2 separate regions of the Homo sapiens genome follow, and region 2 is linked to region 1. Evidence: fine-mapped QTL for protein levels in blood plasma. A gene starts in region 1. The other region holds a variant in brackets. All regions are shown on one strand. Distances are between the middles of the regions.

The links. PIP is the chance, under the fine-mapping model, that this variant and not a neighbour inherited with it causes the effect. Protein levels are from antibody-based Olink assays in UK Biobank. Linkage for the fine-mapping came from a reference panel and not from the study's own genotypes, which makes the PIPs less certain.
Region 2: its variant is fine-mapped to the plasma level of the LAMP2 protein (UK Biobank, PIP above 0.99).

What each region holds. Positions count from the first base shown.
Region 1 is chrX:120,460,266-120,469,852 of GRCh38, reverse strand. It overlaps LAMP2 (lysosomal associated membrane protein 2), which reads left to right and starts at 557. Exons shown (of 9, transcript NM_002294.3): 1 at 557-747. The coding sequence starts at 684. RefSeq lists a silencer at 355-619.
Region 2 is chrX:120,432,148-120,439,013 of GRCh38, reverse strand. All of the region lies in intron 8 of LAMP2 (lysosomal associated membrane protein 2), which reads left to right. Among named protein-coding and RNA genes, the nearest start is that of LAMP2, 34 kb to the left of the region's middle. The variant C/T (reference allele first, on the strand shown) is at 4,011.

The DNA of each region.
Region 1 (9,587 bases):
ATGTCCTTTGCAGGGACATGGATGAAGCTGGAAGCCATCATCCTTAGCAAACTAACACAGGAACAGAAAACAAAACACTGCATGTTCTCACTCATAAGTGGGAGTTGAACAATGAGAACACATGGACACAGGGAGGGGAACAACACACACGGGGGCCTGTCAAGGGGTGGGGGCCAAGGGGAGGGAGAGCATTAGGAGAAATACCTAATGCATGTGGGGCTTAAAACCTAGATGACGGGTTGATAGGTGCAGTAAACCACCATGGCACATGTATACCTATGTAACAAAGCTGCACATTCTGCACATGTATCCCAGAACTTAAAGTAAAATTAAAAAAAAAAAAAAAAAAGAAAGAAAAAGAAAAAGAAAATGCCGTCCGCGCATATCTCTCAGGAGCATAGGAAGGGCTGTGAACCAAAAAGCCAGGGCGTGGTCGCCCCGCCCACCGGCCGCTACATCACCACCCCTCTCGCCGCTTTCAAGCGCGGAGATTGGCTGTAAGCAAGAAAGAGCCCCGCCCCTAGTCTTATGACTCGCACTGAAGCGCCGATTCCTGGCTTTTGCAAGGCTGTGGTCGGTGGTCATCAGTGCTCTTGACCCAGGTCCAGCGAGCCTTTTCCCTGGTGTTGCAGCTGTTGTTGTACCGCCGCCGTCGCCGCCGTCGCCGCCTGCTCTGCGGGGTCATGGTGTGCTTCCGCCTCTTCCCGGTTCCGGGCTCAGGGCTCGTTCTGGTCTGCCTAGTCCTGGGTGAGTTGTCGGGCCCTCCCGATTAGTCTGTCCGCCTGGGCCCGGGGCACCAGTTCAAAGCTACAACCTGAAAGACTGGTCCGAGGGGGAGGGGGTTGAGAGGCTCAGCAGCTAACACTGGGCGGCGGCGGTTGGCCCGGGGAGGCAAGCGGTGACCTAGAGAAGGCCTGACCGACGGATGGCGGGGAAGAAGGGCCCAGGAGAGTAAGAAGGGGCCGGTAACGGGGGGTGGACGCCGAGGGAGTAGGCTGGGAGGAGTGAAGCGTGGAGAGGGTCAGCGTGGAAAGAGTAACTTGGGGAAAACACTGAGGAGTGAGCGTAGGAGGGTGGTACATGCAGATTTTGGGCGCCAGAGACAATTAGGAGAGTCTTGGTTTGCTGAGATCAGGGAAGAGTTTTGAAGATGGTGGAAAAACTATGGGGTGAGATAGGAAATTAAGAGAGAAGACCATGCCTGCCTGGAGTAGCTTGGGAGAAGTGTGTGGGTGGGGGACAGATGGGACAGATAGGACAGTAGAGCCTGAGGGGCAGGGGCAGTGACAGGGTTGGGCATTTTGAAGGTTGGAATTTGAGACTGTGAAGAAAGGATGATTCAAGAGATTAGGAGTGATGCTGGGTTTGAGTTTGGTAGTCATAGTTTTAAGGGCGAAGGAACCTAAGGTAGCTGGGGCAATTTCCAGGAAAGAAAACTTGGACCCAACCTCTGGAGACTAAGGGGTTCAGGGGGAACTTTGATGGGGAGTGCACATCTGACTTGGAGGTATTGAGGATGTCGATTTTCTCCCAGTTTTGCTACTTCCTCCCAGCCAGACGCTGACAAAAAAATCCCCAGACGTTTCAGTTAGGAGGGCCTCCCAGATGTGAGGTTTTGGGGGTGGAGTATTTGAGTTTGGTAGACTACCTCTTTGCCTTCAGAGTTTCTTCTTTTCTTTCTTCCCCATCACACAGCTAGCCTATTACCTCATATTTTGGGGGTGCAGGGAGCAGGTAGACAAACTTGCTAAGGATTGGGTTGTTACCAGGGCCTAAGAATGGCTGGATGGGGCCGGGCGTGGTGGCTCATGCCTGTAATCCCAGCACTTTGGGAGGCCGAGGTGGGTGTATCACCTGAGGTCAGGAATTCAAGACCAGCCTGGCCAACATGGTGAAACCCCGTCTCTACTAAAAATACAAAAATTAGCCGGGCGTCGTGGCACATGCCTGTAATCCCAGCTGCTTGGGCGGCTGAGGCAGGAGAATCGCTTGAACCCAGAAGGCGGAGGTTGCAGTGAGCCAAGATTGCGCCATTGCACTCCAGCCTGGGCGACAAGAGTGAAACTCTGTCTCAAAAAATAAAAATAAATAAATCAATAAATAAATGGCTGGGTGAATGTTCGCTGATTGTGTTGTGCCCTAATAGGCAGTGGGTCGCTAACAACTTTAATGCCTAAAAGTGAACTTTGACTAAAGTGTCTCTTCCTGACTTTGATTCATGCTGTGCTTGTTGCTACCCACCTGCTCTTGCTATTTGTGACTTAATAAAATAACATAAAGAACAGACCCAGATGGGAGTGGGGAAGAAATAGACATATTAGGGGTCTGAGAAAGCAGTGAGAGGTATACATTTTGTAATTCACATTTCAGTAGAATGAAATCAACACCCTGGAATAGTGATTCTCAACCAGGGGACATTTGGCAACATCTGGAGACATTTTTGGTTGTAACAACTGGGGGATTGCTTTTAGCATCTAGTGGGTAGAGGCCAAGGATGCTGCTAAACATCCTAACTAAGCACAGGGCAGCCCCTGACAACAAAGAATCATCTCCCTGAAAATGTCAATGGTGCCAACATTGATAAATCCTGCTCGAAAACCATAGTATTGGAAGGGTTCTTGATTATCTAATTCAGTGACTCTCGAGGACCTTTTCATGCGTCTGTGAAATCAAAACTTCGGAATAAGGTTAAGAAGGTATTTGTCCTTTTCTGCTGGGCACAGTGGCTCACGCCTGTAATCCCAGCACTTTGGGAGGCTGAGGCGGGCGGATCACCTGAGATCAGGAGTTCAAGACCAGCCTGACCAACATGGTGAAACCCAGTCTCTACTAAAAATAGAAAAATTAGCCGGTGTCGTGGCACATGCCTGTAATCCCAGCTACTTGGGAGGCCGAGGCAGGAGAATCGCTTGAACCCAGGAGGCGGAGGTTGCGGTGAGCCAAGATTGCGCCACTGCATTCCAGCCTGGGCAACATGAGCGAAACTCTGTCTCAAAAAAAAAAAAAAAAAAAGAAGTTATTTGTCCTTTGTCCTTTTCACTCTCATCCTCTCACCAGTGTACAGCAGAGTTTTCCAGTGGCTACGTAACATGTGATGACCTCACCACTCTGATGTTCTTATATTTTATTCATTTCTCAGTTTTAATTTCTAATACTGTAAATACCAATACATATGACTCACATAAACCTCTGTGAAGTCCTCAGTGGATAAGAAAGTAAAGGGGTCCTGACACCAAAACTTTGGGAATCCCTGATGTAGTCCAACTGTTCACAGCGCGCAGGAAACTCTTCTGTAGCACTTCTGAAAGGCGGCCTTGAGGCAGGCTTTGCTTGAATACTTAATTGGAAGCCTTAACTGTACCTTGGAGCACTTACTGAGGGCCAACTGACCCTAAGAAAGGATTGTTTACAATGGAAAGTACCTTATCAGTGACTAGAACACATCTGACCAAGGCATCTGTTAATCAGTAGTTCCCTGCCAATTGAATCTGTGCACAAATACAACACTGTTATTGTTTTGGGAAAGTGAAAAAAATAATAGTTGTCCTACTTGTTGGCTTTCATGTCATTAAATTTTTTTTTGTTTTTTAATGAAAGCTTTTTTGTTTTGTTTTTACAAAAGCAATGCTTACTCACTGCAGAAAATAAACATGCAAAAAGAAGCACATAAAAGAACCCATCAGCTCATCTGCTAGTTTGCCATTTATTGATCAGGACTAACTAGATTCTTCCTCTTGGAAAATTTCCAAGATTGATTCCCTCCGCCTCCAAGTTCAGAGCAGGATTTGGAAAAGTAAATATTAATAATGTACCTAGATCTGATTTTTAAGAGGTTCCAGGATGAAATAGAAACCATTTTTCTATACAGCTGCATTTTCTGATGGCTCTTGGTTCAGTGTGGAGCCCAAAGTCCTCCCATATAGCTTTTTCTGTCAAGAATTTAGCAGTTGCTTGGTGGGTTTTGCACAAGTTACTTTTCTATATCAAAATGGATACCAATAATAGGTTTTTGAAAACTTAATAAATATTTGTAAAGTACCTAATATGTAGCTAAATCAATAAATATTTGTAAAGTACCTACTATGTAGCTAGAACTGTGCCTGGGTACTGTACGGAGTGCCAATGAAGGAGGACCTGTCCTAAATTTATAGTCTTATTAGCATTAGTGCTCTAGCTGTGCCAGTTTGACTTTGTAACTTTATAACTCTATCCCAGCTTCACCCATAACCTTTTAAAAACAGCAGCTTTAGAATAAGTACAGAAAAGGATTCTTAGAGGCTATATATTGGTCTTTTTCATAGAGATTAAATTATGCTGGTGTTTATTTGGATGAATTGTAACTGACCAGACAACTTTCCGAAGAGAAGCTATATGATTTAGAGGTGTTATAAAGTGGATAGTGGGTGAAAATCCTTTCTTTATATAATTGCCTAATTATGGTCCTTTTGTGATATCATAGATTTCAGGATTCTTCTGTGGTTATTGATTCTTATAACTAGCTTGACTTCTGTTTTTTGGTTTGTTTGTTTGTTTTTTTAGGGTTCAGAATTTTTTTTTTTTAGGTTTGAGGCTTTTCTGGGTGGGAAAAACCTCACAGAAATATTCTTAGTGTATGTTACTGGTAGGAGCCTCTCCCTTCCACACGTTTACTGAATGCCTATTGTGTCCCAGCCACTATATTAGGTGAAAGGGACAGAGGAATGGATAAGACAGATGAGGTTCCTGCTCTCATGGAGCTTACATTTTAATGGGAGAAGAAAGCTCAACAGATAAATAATATAATGTCAGATAGTGATAAACACTATGAAGAGGCCGGGCATGGTGGCTCACGCCTGTAATCCCAGCACTTTGGGAGGTCAAGGTGGGCAAATCACCTGAGGTCAGGAGTTCGAGACCAGCCTAGCCAACATGGTGAAACCCCATCTCTACTAAAAATACAAGGGCATGGTGGCCAGCACCTGTAGTCCCAGCTACTCGGGAGGCTGAGGCAGGAGAATTGCTTGAATCCAGGAGGTGGAAGTTGCAGTGAGCCGAGATCATGCCACTGTCCTCCAGCCTGGGGGACAAGAGCAAAACTCTGTCTCAAAACAAAACAAAACAAAAACACTATGAAGAAAATTACACAGGTAATGAGAAAGGAGAATGAGTAGATGATAGGAATGGGTGATGGTGGATGATCCTTCTTTATATTATGTGGTCAGAGGGCCTTCCGTTATCGGGTGACATTTGGGCAGAGACCTGGGTGTTGGCAGGAGGCCAGCCATGTGACCATCTGGGGAAATAGGAATAAATCTTATCATTTGCAAAATCTTAGGTTACTAGCCTATTTTCCACGCTTTTTTGTTTCCCCCTAGTTTTAGTCAAGTCTCTCCTATGGTAGCAGTCTCTAAGAGCAGAGACGATCTTATGTACTGTTACTTCCCATTGCCTACCTAGCATAGGGTCTGGTACATGGTTAACCCGTAGTGAATTTTTGTTGAAGATATTCATTGGTGGGCACTAGGGATATGGTGGTAAACTAGACTCATTTAGTCTCCTTTTTCTTCCATGAATTTTAAATGATGTTTTGCAAGAAGTTCTTTTGGATTGAAAACTTCAAGATCAGTGCTAAGCAGTACGGATAATTATACAGTAATTTACTAATGTATAATCCCATATAATAATGCTAGTTTCTTACCTGTACTCCTTCAGATATACCTCCGTAGTCTCGAAGGGGGTAATATGGAGAATTAGGAGTTCCTTGGTGAGGAGAGTTAGGTTTTCACAAAGTTAGGTTTTCTCTGAGAGAAAACAAGCACTAAGATTTTTCTATAGGCTTAACACATTTCATTTAACTGATAACTTTGATTTCGAGGTTCTGCCAAATTATTCTAGTTATAATAGAGATACTGTAAAGGACTGAAAAATTCTGAACCCTAAAAAAAAACAAAAAAAAAACGAAAAACAGAAGTCAAGCTAGAAGATAAGAAAGGACAGGCTTGTTAGTTTGTTAGTCATTGATTATCACATCTGATAGGGTTATAGATATTCAAATATGTCCCAAATACCAGATTAGTTTGTTAGTCATTGATTATCATATCTGATAGGGTTATAGATATTCAAATATGTCCCAAATATCAGATTGTCACATCTGATAGGGTTATAGATACTCAAATATGTCCCAAAAGAACAGCTTTCTTCCCCTATATCTTTGGGTAGATTTTGTCTATAACCAAGCATTATTTCGTAGCACTGGAGCTGATTTAAATGACCCTTGATGCAGGAAGGCTGCTCTTCTTTCTGTAGTGCAAAAGTATTCTGATCATAATTTCTTATTAAAGTGATCAGAGATCCCCTCAGACCCAAAAGTATACTTTATAAGTACTTGTTGGTATCCTGCTGTGCATTGTGAAAGAATTCTGGAGGTGTGCCAAACACTGCTCAACAATAAGCACTTTCCATTAGTTGAGTAGTGTTGAATCTTGTTTCCTTACCCACTCTTTGGCCTTAACAAATTAAGTCATTTTATAGCTTAAAAACATATTTTTATTAACTTTTAATACTCTTTTTCATGTGTTCAACATTCTTACTTTAAAATCATATTGCTTTTCTCCTTTAAGAAACTTACCAAAAGCAAGGGTATAAAGTAACTGAATGCAATGAGTGTACCTATTATTAGGAATTATAAAGGAGAAACAGTTAATCTGACTTAAACTTGTAGGAAAACCATCACTCTGAATAGAAAACAAAGATAAATAGGTACCGTATGCCTCTGTGTCCTGTATTTTAAAAAGACCTTTTGCTCAACATCATTCTAAATTCATGAGTTTGAGGACAAGAGTCCAGAATTTAATATGATGAAAGTAAACATAAAGCTAAAACTTGGGAAGGTTCCCTTTAGGTGCTGTGTTTACTAAAAAGGAGACTTGTAAATTGGTATCTAACTTGTTTGGCAAATTTCTTTTAGCTCTGAAGGGTTTATATGCTTTCAAAGAACCTATTGGAGAAATATGCACTATAATTCTAAACAAGGGTAACTTGCCCAAAGTCTCACAGCTAGGAAGTTGGACTGCCAGATTTGAGTTCTAGCTCTTCCACTCCAGGAATGGGGACTCTTAATCACTTCATTATATAATCAATCCATTGTATCTTGGATCATTGTTTGGTTTCTTTTTATTGGTTTTGTTTTATTGCTAGCATTATGTTCTTCCCCCACCCCTAATTTTGTGTGTTTATGTTTTCAGCTATACTTTGGGTCAAATAGACTTGCAAAAACCTAGCCACTTTTTGCAGTGTCATACACTTGGGGAAGTAAGGTCTGTGTTCTCTGTGAGAGGTTTTTTTTTTTTTTTTTGACAGGGTCTTGTTCCATTCCCCCAGCTGGAGTGCAGTGGAGTGATCTTGGCTCACTGCAACCTCTGCCTCATGGGCTCAAGCGATCCTCCCATGTCAGCCTCCCGAGTAGTTGAGACCACAGGCATGCACCATCACACCCAGCTATTCTTTTGTATTTTTAGTATAGATGGGGTCTTGCCATGTTGCCCAGGCTGGTCTTGAACTCTTGAGCTCAAGTGATCTGCCCCCCTTGGCCTCCCAAAGTGCTAGGATTACTGGTGTGAGCCACTGCCCGGTCAAGGTCTGCATTCTAAAAGAATTTACAAATGACCTTTTTGGAAAACAGGATTGAGAGGATATTTGACTTTGAGAACGGTTGATTTTGAGGCATACCTTTTTCTTTTATTTAGAGAATAAACTCTCAGCTCTAAAATTACACACTCTAGAATATATTCATCTATGGTTTTTTAATGTCATAAAGCCTTTTAAAAATTGGGTATTGTAAAATCAAACACAGCAATAAGGATGGAAATTGCTTGCTAGATACTTTTTAATAAAGTGTAAATATTTCAACTGTAAACTTACCTTTTGGGAAAAGCTCTGTTCCTAGCTTGACATCCATGTCAAAATTTATTGAAGTGAAACCCAACATGGGGTTTGAGGGAATATCCAGAAGACTGATATGTTCAAGATTTGGAAGAGCTAAAGGACTGGCCTCTCTGTAATTAGATTAAGCTATGTTTTGGGTCCCTATTGCAGTGTGTTTTCACCTTGATATAATTAATCAGTATTTATTGAAAATCTAATATGCATTCAGCACTACTTGGAATGATAGGAGATAGAGGAAAAGTAATACACATGGTGTCCCCTACCATGACACTCATGATAGATGACATTCATATAAAAGACACACTGCTAGGGGTTGTGGGATACATCAGATCATCTGATCAAGGGAGCATACTGGAGTTCAAACGAGTGACAGAAATGTTATCTAAAGGGAATCTTGAATCTATCCATATATATCATTCATTCACAGACTTGGTACTTTTTTTATTAGTAACAAATTACTTACTGTATACTATAATTTACCATGGCACACCAGTTTGTTATGAAGTGACAGTTGAAAACTGCTGTGTTGGAGCTTATGACAGTAGGAGGGACAGGATTTACTGCTATAAAATAACTGAATAATTCAGGATAATGTAAAATATACTGAAATGGGATGTGCATTATTACTGCTCCTTGAGGGCTTTTATAGTCAGGGAAAGCTTTGTGGAGAAAATGGCTACTGAAAAAACAGATAGCATATCAGCCCAGGTTCTTAATTGCAAGGAAGAGAAATACAATCTGATTGATTTTAAGCAGAAAAGAATTTATTAAAAAGAACTGGGATATAATGCATACCCTTTGGCCCCACAGTTTCATTCCTAGATATACAGCCAACATACACGCATACATGTGTTTACTAATATGTGCAAGAATGTTTGCAGCAGTGTTTGTAATAGAATCACACTGGAAACTAAATGCCCATTAAAGGTAGCATAGATAAGTAGTTTTTTTGTTTGTTTGTTTTTGTTTTTTTTTGAGACAGAGTTTCATTCTTGTTGCCCAGGCTGGTGGAGTGCATTGGCATGATCTTGGCTCACTGCAACCTCTGCCTCCCGGGTTCAAACGATTCTCCTGTATCAGCCTCCTGAGTAGCTGAGATTACAGGCATGTGCCACCATGCCCAGCTAATTTTTATATTTTCAGTAGAGGTGGGATTTGGCCATGGTGGCCAGGCTGGTCTCGAACTCCTGACCTCAAGTGATCCACCCTCCTTGGCCTCCCAAAGTGCTGGGATTACAGGCGTGAACCACCCCACCTGGCCTGTATTCACCTGATCATAGAAGGTTATACAGCAGTGAGCACAGACTGCAATTATGCATAACATGGGTGAATCTCACAAAACCTAAAATTGAGGAAAGAAAGCAGACACAAAAGAGAGCATAGTGAATGATTTTATTTATATCAAGTTGAAAAATGGATAAAATTAATCTATAGTGTCAGAAATCAGGATAATGGTTACCCTTGGGAAGGGAATAGTAACCCTTGGGAAGGGAAAGGGAAATAAGGAGGGCTTTGGAAGTGTAGTTGACCCTTGAACAACACAAGTTTGAACTGTGTGTGGATCTACTTATACATGAGTTTATTTCACCTCTACCACCCTGAAGACAGCAAGACCAACCCCTCCTCTTCCTCCTCCTCGTTATGATTTTTTTTTTTTGAGACGG
Region 2 (6,866 bases), 29 kb after region 1:
AAAAACTATCAACTACAAATTAGTTGCCTGACTTTGGTTTTTCCAACCAAGGAATTTAAAACTGTTATTTTTACAGCAAAAGATGTGCAAAATCACTGGATTATAAGTTCTATTTTACTGTCTTGAATTAGTATTTCAGTGTTTTCATTTTAGACATTCAGACTAAAAATACACCGTTTAGAAAAAACAATTTTTGAAAAAGAGATTTTTTTTCCCTGCAGGTAGTTGAGTTGGAACAACATGTTCTACCGTGGATTTGTACTTGCTCCTTTTGCTCTTTTTGTGTGTGTGTGTGTGTGTGTGTGTGTGTGTGTGTGTGTGATTTTTGTTTGCAGGTTAACTTAGCTACTTTGGCATTGCTGCATATTTGACCTTTGAGAGATATAATAGTAGATTTGAACAGGGGCTGGTATTATTATGTTCTTAGCAATAAATGCTTTTCTAATGCCTTTTGAATACATTTGTATTTATGTGGCTGTAATGACAAAAGATACAAAAGCTTTTTAAAATTTAGAGTAGGTATTAATCTTATTGTTTAATCTTTTTTTTAAAAAAACTGGATATTTCAATCTTTTAAATTGCAATATATAAGACTATTCCAACTGGGCATTTCAATCCATTTTTTAGGTGCTTTAGAGATAATTGCTTGCCAGTGCCAATTGAGGGCATTAGTACTTTGTGCTCATAAATTGGCCTCTGTATGCAGTACTAAAATTAATGCAGATTTCTCTTTAGCCTTCCAACATTTCTTGTTGATAGTGATGTATTTTATTATTTTCTTTTTCTTAAGAAATGCCAGTGTGTCCTAGAACCTAGATAACGAAGTGCACTTACACTTATAAAATAACTTGCATCTAGGCTGGGCGTGGCGGCTCACGCCTGTAATCCCAGCACTTTGGGAGGCCGAAGTGGGTGGATCACTTGAGGCCAGGAGTTTGAGACCAGCCTGGCCAACATGGTGAAACCCCATCTCTATCAGAAATACAAAAAATTAGCTGGGCGTGGTGGTGGGCGCCTGTAATCCCAGTTACTCGGGAGGCTGAGGCAGGAGAATCACTTGAACCCGGGAGGCAGAGGTTGCGGTGAGCCAAGAGCGCACCATTGCACTCCAGCCTGGGCGACAAAAACGAAACTCCATCTCAAAACAAAACAAAACAAAACAAACAAACAAACAAAACTTGCATCTAACCAAAAAGTCTTGGTTTTATCTTAATCCATTAAAAAGTTGTTCTTTGTTTCCAGCTTGCATTGATTGCTACAACATCACTAATTTGGCTTTCACATTTAAATGGTTCTGTGCTAATCAAAACTTTCGTTGTTATTATTCATTATGGTAGAATCATTTTTAATTCACGTGCTTTGTGTTCAGTTTTGTGGTCTGAGAGATGTACCAATTGTCAAATTACCGTGTACCACCTAATGTTTATAGGAGAAAGCAAAATACATCAGCTTGGTAGTTAACACATCAAATATTTCTTGCTGCTTCTAGGAGAACTTTTTTGGTGTGTGTTGGAATGGCTGAGCAAATATTAAAATTGTTAATATGCAGCCATATATGGAAGGTTCCTGTGGGGTTGTTTTTTCGTGTTTTTTTTTTTTTTGTGGTGGGATTATGTGCCTCCCATTCACTAGAAAATGAGAAAATTGTCTGGGTTCCAAAATATTGACATTGAATGGATCAATACACACACACAGACATATATATATATATGCACACATATATAGGCAGTTGCATGCTAGCATGGGTATTTTTATAACAATATAACTGAGTTATATTGGAATTATAAATATTTTCCGTCACTTAAATTTGTTCTTTGTTTAGCCTGAAAACCTTTATGGCTCAAGATCAGATTCCTGACTAACCCCTCTCTTAGAGCTACAGCGAGCTGCATTACCAGCTTAAAACACTTCTTAGGGATTAAATATAGATGTAATTTTTCAAAATCGTTTTTAATTTAAACTGTGTTTTAGTGTAAAATTGTTAACCTTGTAAGATGGATAATGTGTATAAGAATGTAGGCCTTAACTATTTCACATGAGTCAAAACAAAGCAGCTTTAAAAAAATAATTGGAAGCACAAGTGCATGGCACTGACTGAATGCTGTTAATATTTCTAAAAGTTTCTACATTCAGATTATATGCCTGATTCATAGTAAAATACCTCTAATAAACACTGTTTTATAGAAAACCTGACTTCAGTGAATATTTTTGTATTTTACATGGGCCAGTTTATATACTGCTATTTACACTATTATTTCCTATAGCTACATGTTCTTTGTACCTTTTGTAGTTTTATTTGTATTACTAGATTCATACCTTGATGGTAACGCTCTATCTGGTTTTGGGTGTTTTTCATGTTTTAGCATTTGTATAAAGAAACTGGTCCATGTAAATACTTTCCATGTTTTTTCTTCAAATGTTTAAACCACTAGTTGATGTATGGTATCTTTAGATATTTGCCTGTCTGTTTGCTCAAAATTGCTTCTAAAACAATAAAGATTCTTTTATTTCTTAAGGCAATTTGCTTACCTTTTTTCCCGTTGGTTAAAGTCAAGATTTTGTATACTACATAATGGCAATTTCTTTCAAATGGAAAAACTTTAGAAATGTTTAGAAGTAGAACTGAATTATTTGCAAAATGTTCTGATGTTCTGTCTGTATATTACCATCTGGAAGAATAGTCCCATACATAGGCCTCGATTGATGCTAGGCAGGCTACAGAATAAGATCAACCTGGGAAGCGTTTTATAAAAATAGATTCCAGGCTGCATCCTTAGAGGATTTAACGTAGTAGGTCTAATGAGGAGACAGAGAGAGAGAGAGACAGAGAGAGAGAGAGAGAGTGTGTGTGTGTGTGTGTGTGTGTGTGTGTGTGTGTGTGTGTAAGCTCCCCTGCTGAACCTGATGCATAGTCAGTTAGGGAACCAGTGATCTAGAATATTTATTTCATAATAAAAGCTGCGGAGTATCTCTTTGTACACTTTTCTCAATTCCTAAGTTGAGGTTGATATTCAATATCTCTACATAGTAGCTTTACATTGCAGCCATACATATTGAGCTATTGATCTGAACCAACGTAGGATTGTGTGCAGTCTCTCTCTTACTTAGATCACTCTAAAATACTTGAGCCTTCCAGTTTCCATATACGGATAGTTACCTAGTCACCTTACTATATCACATAAGAAAACTTAGCAATGTAGCTGGTAACTTTTCTCTGAATTACCCAGTTAAGCCATGTGAATGCCAGTTAGTCATCACGGCTGCAAACTCTGCAGTTAACTACCATTGTCTTTGGCCAAGTTGTTTAACTTCTAGTGTCTCAATTTCTTCATCCAGTGGGTGGGGGCTTTAAAATCCTGCTACTCATTTCTTTGAGTGATAATTTGCATTTCAGAGGAATGCATCATAGTATTTCATACATCTTAGTATTTTAGAAGGAATCTGATAAGCTACTTGTTACGTATCAAGAACATACTATAAGTTCAGTGTAAAATGTACCACTTAAGTTTCCTGCAGTTTTTCAGGAGGAATTCTTATAAGACTTGGACATTTTTAAGATGATAGTATTTCATCTGTTTATTTAGGTAGATAATGTTAAATTGTCTTGGGCTCATCTTCCACCCATCTCCTTTTCTTTTACCCTGGTAGCTAACTTTCTGCGTTAATAATCACCATTTCTTGTATTTGAAACTGGTATAGATATTCATGAATGATATTGAGTAGCTTCACGAATCTTTTCAGATGCATGTGATTTACTTAACACAGTTTGATTATAGATATAAAATGTATATAACAAAATATCACCTAAGAATGTGCTTCTTAATGTGGATCCTTCCAAAAAGAAGTTTTGACTCGTTTGTTTGTTTGTTTTGTTTTGTTTGAGATGGAGTCTCGCTCTGTTGCCCAGGCTTGGGTGTGTATAGTGGTGTGATCTCAGCTCACTGCAACCTCCGCCTCCCAGGTTCAAGCAATTCTTATGCCTCAGCCTCCCAAGTAGCTGGGATTACAGA[C/T]GAGTGCCACCACACCTGGCTACCTTTTTATTTTTTTAGTAGAGATGGGGTTTTGCCATGTTGGCCAGGCTGGTCTCGAATTCCTGACCTCAAGTGATCTGCCTACCTCGACCTCCTGAACTGCTGTTATTATAGGCATGAAACGCTGTGCCTGGCCTCAACTGGTTTTTAAGAGAAGTTTTATTAGTTTTTGTTGTAAATGTATACCTCAGCTTTCCAGTTCTTGTGTTGAAAATTGTGTTTGAAAAATGTCTGAACTGGCAGAAAATTGAAGATTAACAGCATTTTTAATCTACATGAAACTTCTTACTGAAATTTTAGTGGCCATGGAACTTTTTAATCTTTAAAAATCTTTATTGCTTCTGTGGCTATTAAATTCTTCTGCAAATACACTTCTCTTTTCCCCAGAAGCATTTTCAATACAGCGTTAAGTATACATTAGGCAAGTAGATCAGATCAAAATGACTTATAGGATGAGATTTTCTTTTCTTCAGAATGTGATCCCATTAAAGTTACTGTTTTACCAACATTTTTTCCATTAACTAAATAATTTTTAAAGGTTGAATTCATACAATCAATAGTTATTATAAATTAATATTTCACATACTAATTGAGAGCATTTTAAGTAAATGACAGTATCTAGAAAGATCTTTGTATTAGCGGAATTGCCTTTTTGAGCTACTCTGAGAATATTTGTCTTACATGAAAGCCTTATTGGCAGTATTTATGAAAGTCGTTTCAGTACTAGGTCAAATACCCAATTTGGGAAAGAGAGAACTATGAGTCTGTTGCCAGAATAAGAAATTAATCTACTAATGAATTTTTAAAAAACCAAGTTATATTAAACCCACGGCATAATACTTTATGGTACATGTCACCTAATAGTTTATGGGCTGGGTGGTAATTTGGGAAATTGTAGGGGAGGTGCTAACTGGGGATTCTTAACACCATCTATTCACAGGTCACATCTGGCAGCCTCAGCTCTCTGGATTCTTAACAGAACCAAGAAGCAAGTAAAACAAATAATTGAACTGGCAGCCCAAGTCAATGTCAGAAAAGTTTATAAACTCCAGGGTTGCATTTTGTTCCTAGTTATTGCCCCAGAGGCTAGTGGGGGCGGCGGGGAAAGCTTGGCACATTTCTTGAATGCAAGCACAATCAGAATTGCCATGCAGCCTATTTGTCCTATCTTTGATACAATTCTAATAAGCTTAGTTATCTGATTTATCAGTCCCTGGTAGACTGCAAGCTAGGCAGAGAACTAGGGCAACAAGACACAGGAAATGGGAAATAGAAATAGCAGTTAACTTCTTTCCTGCAAGTGTATCCATCTGTAGCATTCCTTCCTCCTCTCCAGTCTCAGAGTAGGTTTTCTTTTCCTGGTTAAACTGAGGCAAACAGTTATGTCATCAAGGCCCATTTATATCTCTTTTCCCATTACTAAGTGACCCCAGATTGTTATGTATTGAGTTCTTAATGTCTTACGCTTTTGGAATTCAATCTCTTAACTTGTAGGAGAACTTGTACCATTCAGCATCTTCTGTCAATTGCTAATGGCTGTTTCCCTCATCCTATTTAAGTTCTTCTAACCTTAAGCTATCCTTTCTTGTCCCTATGTCCCCCTTCTAATTACCTCCCTTTTGTCCTGCCTTAATCATTCTAAACTTCTCAAAATGAGTATTGTATTTGTTACCCTGCCCAAGTTCTTGATGTCCTAACCAATCACTTCCCATTCCCTCTTAAACCTGCAGCAATTTTACTCATATCTCCCACCCTTCATATTGCTAGAGGCAATGGACATGTTTCAAAGCTTTCTACTATTATTTGCTGTCTTTCCACCTTAATTGAAACGTTCCATCCTTAGCTTCTCTGGCGCCATTTTCTATCTGCCCTTTTACATCTTTTTCCTACTCCATTGTCTATCCCACAGGTATTGGTGTTCCCAAGGGTTTTTGTCTCTGATCCTCTTTTTATTCTACTTCCCCTTACTGAGAAATGTTCTTGCCCATGTTTTAACTACCACTTAGGTTCATATAGCCACTTGGTTAGGACATAGTGATTTTTTTTTTTTTTTTGAGATGGGTTCTCGATATGCTGCCCAGGCTGGTCTTGAACTCCTGGGCTCAAACAGTTCTCCCATCTCAGCTTCCCAAGTAGCTAGGACTACAGGCGTAAGCTACCATGCTCAACTAAGGACACAGATATCTTAAACTCACATATCTAAAACTGAGCATCTCTCTCTTCCACGTATCCTTTTTACCACCTGTTCCATATAACTACAAAAAACTGAAATGCATATATTCTTCCTCTTTTATAGAATGGCACCAGCATCTACATAATCAGTCAAGTGTGGAATTGGAAACCATTCTATTATCTCCTCCTCGTACACCCCCTACATCCGTTTGGTCAATTTTGCCTTCTAATTTGATCTCCAGTCTGTGCCTTCTGCTTTTCTTCTGCACTTCATTAATCCAGCTCAGGACAATATTATTGGTTACCTGGACTCTAGTGATAAAGATATGTCCTACCTTACTACCTCCATCTGCCATAACTTCTGAAATGAAATCCTGCTTAATATCCTGCTGCTGAATTTTTTTTTCATCAGGATAAGGCCAGACTACCTAAGAGCATATAGTACCTTTGTGACCTGGGTCCCTGCACACTTTTTCTGCCTTCTATCCAGCCAAAAATACCTTTTGATCCATTGTTCTAGCTCTGCCAACCTGCTTGCGTTTCCCTTGAAGTGCTATGTCTTTTTACTCTCCATATTTTTGTCTGTGCTATTTCTTATACCTGGAATGCCCTTCCCCCATTACTTGCATCATTAATTCCTATTCATTCTTAAAATCTCAGCTC